Homo sapiens: one gene and its partner. The protein of the gene in region 2 interacts with the protein of the main gene of each other region in a pairwise test. Each region holds a gene or a part of one and is shown on either strand. Other genes may lie near its edges.

Region 1 (3,652 bases), on a different chromosome or scaffold from region 2:
GTGGCTCACGCCTGTAATCCCAGCACTTTGGGAGGCTGAGGTGGACGGATCACAAGGTCAGGAGATTGAGACCATCCTGGCTAACACGGTGAAACCCTGTCTCTCTACTAAAAATACAAAAAATTAGCCAGGTGTGGTGGCACACGCCTGTAGTCCCAGCCACTCGGGAGGCTGAGGCAGGAGAATGGTGTAAACCCGGGAGGCGGAGCTTGCAGTGAGCCAAGATCACGTCACTGCCTGAAACAGTTAAGACTCTATCTCAAAAAAAAAAAAAAAAAAAAAAAAAAAAAGCCAGGCGTGTGGTGGCTCACGCCTGTAATCCCAACACTGGGAGGCCGAGGCGGGAGGATCACTTGAGGTCAGGAGTTCAAGACCAACCTGGCCAACATGACAAAAAACCCTGTCACTACTAAAAATACAAAAGTTAGCCAGGTGTGGTGGCGTGCGCCTGTAGGCCCAGCTACTTGGGAGGCCGAGGGAAGAGAATTGCTTGAACCTGGGAGGCAGAGGTTGCAATGAGCTGAGATCACACCACTGCACTCCAGCCTGGGTGACAGAGCAAGACTCCATCTTAAAAACAAACAAAAAAAAGAAGATAGCCAAGCCCATTCATTTACGTATTGTCTATGACTGTTTTTCACTACAAAGGCATAGTTGAGTAGTTGGACAGAGACTCTATGGAAAAGCTGAAAATATTTAAAATCTGACCCTTTACTCAACAGTTTGCTGATCCCCCATCTAAATTCCTGGGTTAGGGAGGCAAAGTGTGCTTTTCAACTTCCTTGCTTCCCTGGTGAGGGGTATGTCTGTGTAGAAATTTGATAAAGATAGTTTCTATTTCCCTCCACTACTATACTGCTATAGTGACCTTGGGGCTCATTTTCTGTGTTAGTATCTGCAGAGATATTCATAAATTTGACACCAAATCAATCTCACCAGCCATAACCCTGACACAAATTCCAAGTCCTCTGCCCTATATTCTCAAACTCATTTATTCATCAAACTCCCCTGAAAATTACACATTAGTTCCACTGAAGAGATAAATACATGTTGCTCCATGTCAGATATCTTAGCCTTTCCATTAGACCCCACTGTCTAAAGAAATATGAAGCATATTCATCAGAAAATTTATTGCTTCCCAATTATTTGTTCTTTGAGCAAGGTTGAAAATAGCACCCTCCCCCAACTTCCCTTTAAAATATAAAGTGTTGCCCAGGCGCAGTGGCTCATGCCTGCAATCCTAGCACTTTGGAAGGCCGAGGCAGGTGGATCATGAGGTCAGGAGTTTGAGACCAACCTGGCCAACATGACAAAACCCTGTCACTATTAAAATACAAAAATTAGCCAGGTGTGGTGGCGTGTGCCTGTAGGCCCAGCTACTTGGGAGGCTGAGGCAAGAGAATTGCTTGAACCCGGGAGGCGGAGGTTGCAGTGAGCTGAGATCATGCCACTGCACTCCAGCCTGGGCGACAGACAGAGATTCCGTCTCAAAAAATTAAATAGATAAGGCAGGTGCAGTGGCTCACGCCTGTAATCCCAGCACTTTGGGAGGCCAAGGCGGGCGGATCAAGAGGTCAGGAGATCGAGACCATCCTGGCTAACACAGTGAAACCCCATCTCTACTAAAAATACAAAAAAATTAGCTGAGCGTGGTGGCAGGCGCCTGTAGTCCCAGCTACTCGGGAGGCTGAGGCAGGAGAATGGTGTGAACCCGGGAGGCAGAGCTTGCAGTGAGCCGAGATCGCGCCACTGCACTCCAGTCTGGGTAACAGAGTGAGACTCCGACTCAAAAATAAATAAATAAAATAAAATAAAATAAAATGCACAGGGTTTTCAAGCCCATCCAAACACCCTTGACCATGCTTCTCACTTTTTGCCTATTGTCCACTACACACTTTGAGCAGCAAAGCCCCTAACAACTAATTCGTAACTGACTTTTCTTTTCTGATGATAACGAATCTCTCAGCTCTTTTGGTTAAAAGCGTTCTCAGTTTCTACATGTATAAACCATACACAAAACATCTTTAAACCAAGTGCTAATATGTTCTAAGCTTAAAATCTCCTTATGCATGCTAAGAACCAATACAATCAACTTCTAGAAAAAGGAAGTTTCAAAGGTGCTGGTAATATTCCTTTTTTTTTTTTTTTTTTTTTTTTTGAGATGGGATCTCGTTCTGTTGCCCGAGCTAGAGTGCAGAGGCACAATCATGGCTCATTGCAGCCTCAACCTCCAAGGCTCAAGCGATCCTCCCACCTCAGCCTTCTGTGTAGCTGGGACTACAGGTGCATGCCACCACATCCGATTAATTTTTGTATTTTTGGTAGAAACAGGGTCTTGCCATGTTGTCTAAGCTGGTCTTGAACTCCTGAGCTCAAGCAATCTTCCCACCTCAGCCTCCCAAAGTCCTGGGATTACAGTCTGGGCCACCACGCCTGGCCAATGTTTTATTTATTTATTTTTTAAAGGGAGCACACAGATGATAGTTTTTTTTGGCTTGTTTTGTAAATTTTTTTGAGATAGCGTCTTGCTCTATGGCCCAGGCTGGAGTGCAGCAGTACGATCATGGCTCACTATAGCCTTGACCTCCCAGGCTCAAGTGATCCTCCCACCTCAGCCTCCCATGTAGCTGGGACTACAGGCATGAGCCACCATGCCCAGCCAATCCTTGTTTAATTTTTTGCAGAGATGGGGGTTTATGTTGCCCAGGCTGGTCTTGAACTCCTGGGCTCAAGCAATCCTCCTACCTCAGCCTCCCCACTATTTGGGACTACAGGTGCATGCCACCACACCCAGCTTACATATACTTTTTTTTTGAGACAGAGTCTCACTCTATTGCCCAGGCTGGAGTGTAGTGGTGTGATCTCAGCTCACCAAAACCTCTGCCTCCTGGGTTCAAGCTATTCTTGTGCCTAAGCCTCCCCAGTAGCTGGGATTACAGGGCCCCACTACTGCCGGGCTAATTTTGTATTTTTAACAGAGATGGGTTTCACATGCTGGCCAGGCTGGTCTTAAACTCCTGACCTCAAGTGATCTGCCTCCCTCGGCCTCCCAAAGTGCTGGGATTACAGACATGAGCCAACGTGCCCAGGCTTACTCTTTTTCCTTTTTTTTTTTTTTTTTTTTTTTTGAGACAGAGTCTTGCTCTGTTACCCAGACTGGAGTGCAATGGTGCGATCTCAACTCATTGCAACCTCCACCTCCCGGGTTCAAACAATTATCCTGCCTCAGCGTCCCAAGTAGCTGGGATTACAGGCATCTACCACCACGCCCGGCTAATTTTTGTCTTTTTAGTAGAGACAGGGTTTCACCACGTTGGCCAGGCTGGTCTCGAACTCCTGACCTCAAGTGATCCACCTGTCTTGGCTTCCCAATGTGCTGAGATTACAGGCGTGAGCCACGGCACCCTTACTCTTTTCTATGTATGAAATATTTCACAGTTAAAAAAAAAAAAAAAAAGGTAGAAAACTTAATTCCAGCTGGGCGTGGTGACTGGCTCATGCCTGTAATCCCAGCACATTAGGGGGCCGAGGCAATTGGATCACCTGAGGTCAGGAGTTTGAGACCAGCCTGGTCCAATATGGTGAAACCCCATCTCTACTAAAAATACAAAAATTAGCCGGGCATGGTGGTGGGCGCCTGTAATCGCAGCTA
Region 2 (3,652 bases):
AAAACAAAAAATTTCAAAGTTAAAAAAGAAACCTTTAAAAATATTGTAGCAATAGCCTTCTTCGTAACAAATATAAAACAGCTTAAGACACTTGGTGACTTTCTTAGTTCATCTGTGGGGGAATGGATACACAATGAGGTTTTACTACTAAAGTTAGCTATTTGGTAAAAACTCTAGGAAGAGTTCCATCAAGAAAATGGTTATTTTGGAAAGACAAGTTATGATTATTTCCAAAATGTCAAAAGAAATAAGAATGTAAACACCATATACTTAAAATGTTAATACAATAATATTAACTCAGTCAAATAAATAAAAGAAAGTGGCACCAAATTTATGGCAATTTTTCAAAACAAAAATGTAGCTTAAATATATTTTAAAATAAATAATTGGTTCAAATACGGACGACCATTCTCAGCACAAACTAACAACATTCAAAATAAAGTGCTATGAGAAAAAGTAGCCCCACAATCTTCAACTTATTCACATATGAACAGAGATACTATCTGGATCTTTAGGTCTGAAATATTCACCACGAGTGAAAGCTAGAGGCCAGGCTTAGGGCCATCTTTTGTCATTTTTCTTTTTTCTTCCAGCGTGTGCTTAAATATTTTCTTCAGGGTGTTGTAAACTGTTGGTCCATTTTCAGAATCAAAATTAACCTGGTGACAAAGAAATTTATATTCAGGACACTGTAACAAGAATTTGAACTAGTTTCTATTTTGAGAGAAGGAGGGGGTGGAGAAAAAAAACAGACTTACAAACAAAACTCTATATAAAATACACATAATAAATTTCACACATTTTATTTGAAAGACTATTAGAACTGCCAACCATGTCAATATCAAACTTATGAATGAAAACCCCAAAATTAAATCTAGTGCCTGGATATTTAGTCTAATTATATACACCCAGTCATGAAGCAAGTCAACAGTGGGTGTGAAGTGAATTTTTTGAGACTAATCATTGATGGTATAAGAGAAAAGTTTCCCATATTAAAACAGCACATCAGCTGTATACGTCCTGCTGAGAGGCCCTACGGCCACTCTGGACAGGGTCAGAGTGACCTGAATAGAAGCCCAGCTCCCCACCTGCCAGCTACATGTCCTCATCTCATACCCAACCTCTCTGGACCTTGATCTCCTCCTTTGTAAAACAGAGATAATGATACCCACCTTCATAGGATAGCGTATCTATGAGTCTAACATGTTTGGCACATATATACAAACCTCAACTGGCTGGGTGTGGTGGCTCATGCCTGTAATCCCAGCACTTTAGGAGGCCGAGGTGGGAGAGTTGCTTGAGCCCAGGAGGTTGAGACCAGCCTGGGCAACATGGCAAAACCTCATCTCTACAAAAAATTAAAAATTTAGCCAGGCATGGTGGCACATGCCTGTAGTCCCAGCTACTTGGGAGGCTGAGGTGGGAGGATTGCCGGAGCCCAGGAGGCAGAGGATGCAGTGAGCTGAGATTGTGCCACTGCACTCCAGACTGGGTGACAGAGTGAGACCTTGTCTCAAAAAACAAACAAACAAACAAACAAACAAACAAACCCCACCTTGATAAAGTAAATTTCCTTTCCCCTTGATGGGAGCGCACTATTTACACATATTTGCATTTTTCACCCAAGTTTACCATACTCTGGGTTAGCAGTGATGGCAGGACAGAGAACCAGAGCAAGTACCCACCCTCAACCCCATTCCCAGAGTAATGTGTAACTCCCTGGGAAAGAATCAGGGTCACACAATCACTGCTTCTCTGCTTCTGGAATTTCTCCCTCTCTGATAAATTTTGACAAATGAAAGGTTGTTCCCTCTGTCAACAACTGTAAAGGATCTGAGACCTTAACCTGTTAGCTTGCCAGTGTTATGGATACTGGTAGAAGATACGAGATTCCTGGGTCAGAGACAGACAACTTTTATTTCTCACAGCTGCATGTGCTTCATGTTCACATGGGTTCTCCTTGTCTCTCAAGTCTCATGGAGGCAATGCAGAAGGGCCTAGGTGGAGGCTGCACAAGCACGGGGTTTGCCTCATAGCTGAGGAGCCCCAAGCTTAGGAAACTCCAATGTTTCACAAGGGGGCTGCAAGCAAATCTGCCAACCTTTGCCCTGAAGGGAAACATTTTTATTATCCTGGAAGTCAGAACGTGTGCCTTCTGCTCTCCAGGCAGAGCTCTCCAGACATTAGTGAAGAGTTGATCCTCAAAGAGAGTGGTCAGGGCATCTGCTCATCAGACTATGAAGAGACATGAGAGACCCAAGGAAAACTGTCTCCTAACATTTTCTATAGACAGATTTTGAACAACTGTTATCTCTAACTTTTCATTCGTATCCCCTTAAAAGGCCAAAAGAAGTTGTAAAGAATTCCTACTGCTTTCAGAGAGACCAATCGTAAGGATTTTTTTCAGTTAAGCTCAGGAATTTAATTTTATCTATAACTATATTATCTATCCCCTTTGCAAAAAACTCCTTATTAACATTAATAATGGTGTGAATTGTTTACTTTTTTTTTTTTGAGATGGAGTCTTGCTCTGTCGCCCAGGCTGGAGTGCAGTGGTGCAATCTTGGCTCACTGCAAGCTCCGCCTCCCGGGTTCACACCATTCTCCTGCCTCAGCCTCCCGAGTAGCTGGGACTACAGGCGCCTGCCACCATACCCAGTTAATTTTTTTGTATTTCTTTTTAGTAGAGATGGGGTTTCACCATGTTATCCAGGATGGTCTTGATCTCCTGACCTCGTGATCTGCCCACCTTGGCCTCCCAAAGTGCTTGGATTACAGGCTTGAGCCACCATGCCTGGCCACTTTTTTTTTTTTTTTTTTGAGACAGAGTCTCGCTCTGTTGCCAGGCCGGAGTGCAGTGGCGCGATTTCGGCTCACTGCAACCTCCACCTCCCGGGTTCAAGCCATTCTTCCACCTCAGCCTCCTGAGTAGCTGGGACTGCAGGCGCACACCACCATGCCCAGCTAAATTTTTGTACTTTAGTAGAGATGGGGTTTCACCATGTTGGCCAGGATGGTCTCAATCTCCTGATCTCATGATCCACCCATCTCAGCCTCCCAAAGTGCTGGGATCACAGGCGTAAGCCACCACTCCCAGCTCTGTTTACTTTCTTAAACACCAAACCACAACCTTCTTCACATGGTGGGTAGCCTCTCAGTCTATGAAAGTGTAAATACAGATGTAAAGGACCACGCGGTTTGGATTTGAGACTACTGACTCTGGAAACAGTGGAGAACAGATTGAAAAGATGTCAGTGGTTAGTGCCATAGAATCCAGATGAGGAACAAGGAAGGCCTGAAGTAAGAACATCACTCCGGAAAGAGTGGAGGGGAAGGAGACTGGACAAATATTAAAAAGGAAGAATCTTTATAACTTGTTAATGAGTATAAATAATAACTTCTTATCATTAATGTTACCACAGATGTTGTCATTCAAAAGCTGGGTTCTTTGTTTAATGACACTTTCATATCAATGAGAGGTAACAAACAAATTATAGATACTTTCATATCAATGAGAAGTAATAAACAAATTATAGCTGATGGGGTAAGGGGAAACTTTTCTCTCAGTATGAACCTGGCTGCTTCTTCTTTCTTCAGCCAGGAAAAACTGCTGCATCCAAAAGGATGGGCTTTTAGAAAGGAAACCTTTTTT

The links.
Region 1: the proteins of PTPDC1 (region 2) and CRKL interact in binary tests that used the Homo sapiens proteins (3 or more experiments, as listed by UniProt).

Annotation. Positions count from the first base shown.
Region 1 is NC_000022.11:20,927,319-20,930,970, reverse strand, and holds part of CRKL (crk-like protein), read right to left. Parts: intron 1-3,652. UniProt on the Homo sapiens protein: May mediate the transduction of intracellular signals.
Region 2 is NC_000009.12:94,104,835-94,108,486, reverse strand, and holds part of PTPDC1 (protein tyrosine phosphatase domain-containing protein 1), read right to left. Parts: intron 660-3,652; coding exon 543-659; 3' UTR 1-542. UniProt on the Homo sapiens protein: May play roles in cilia formation and/or maintenance.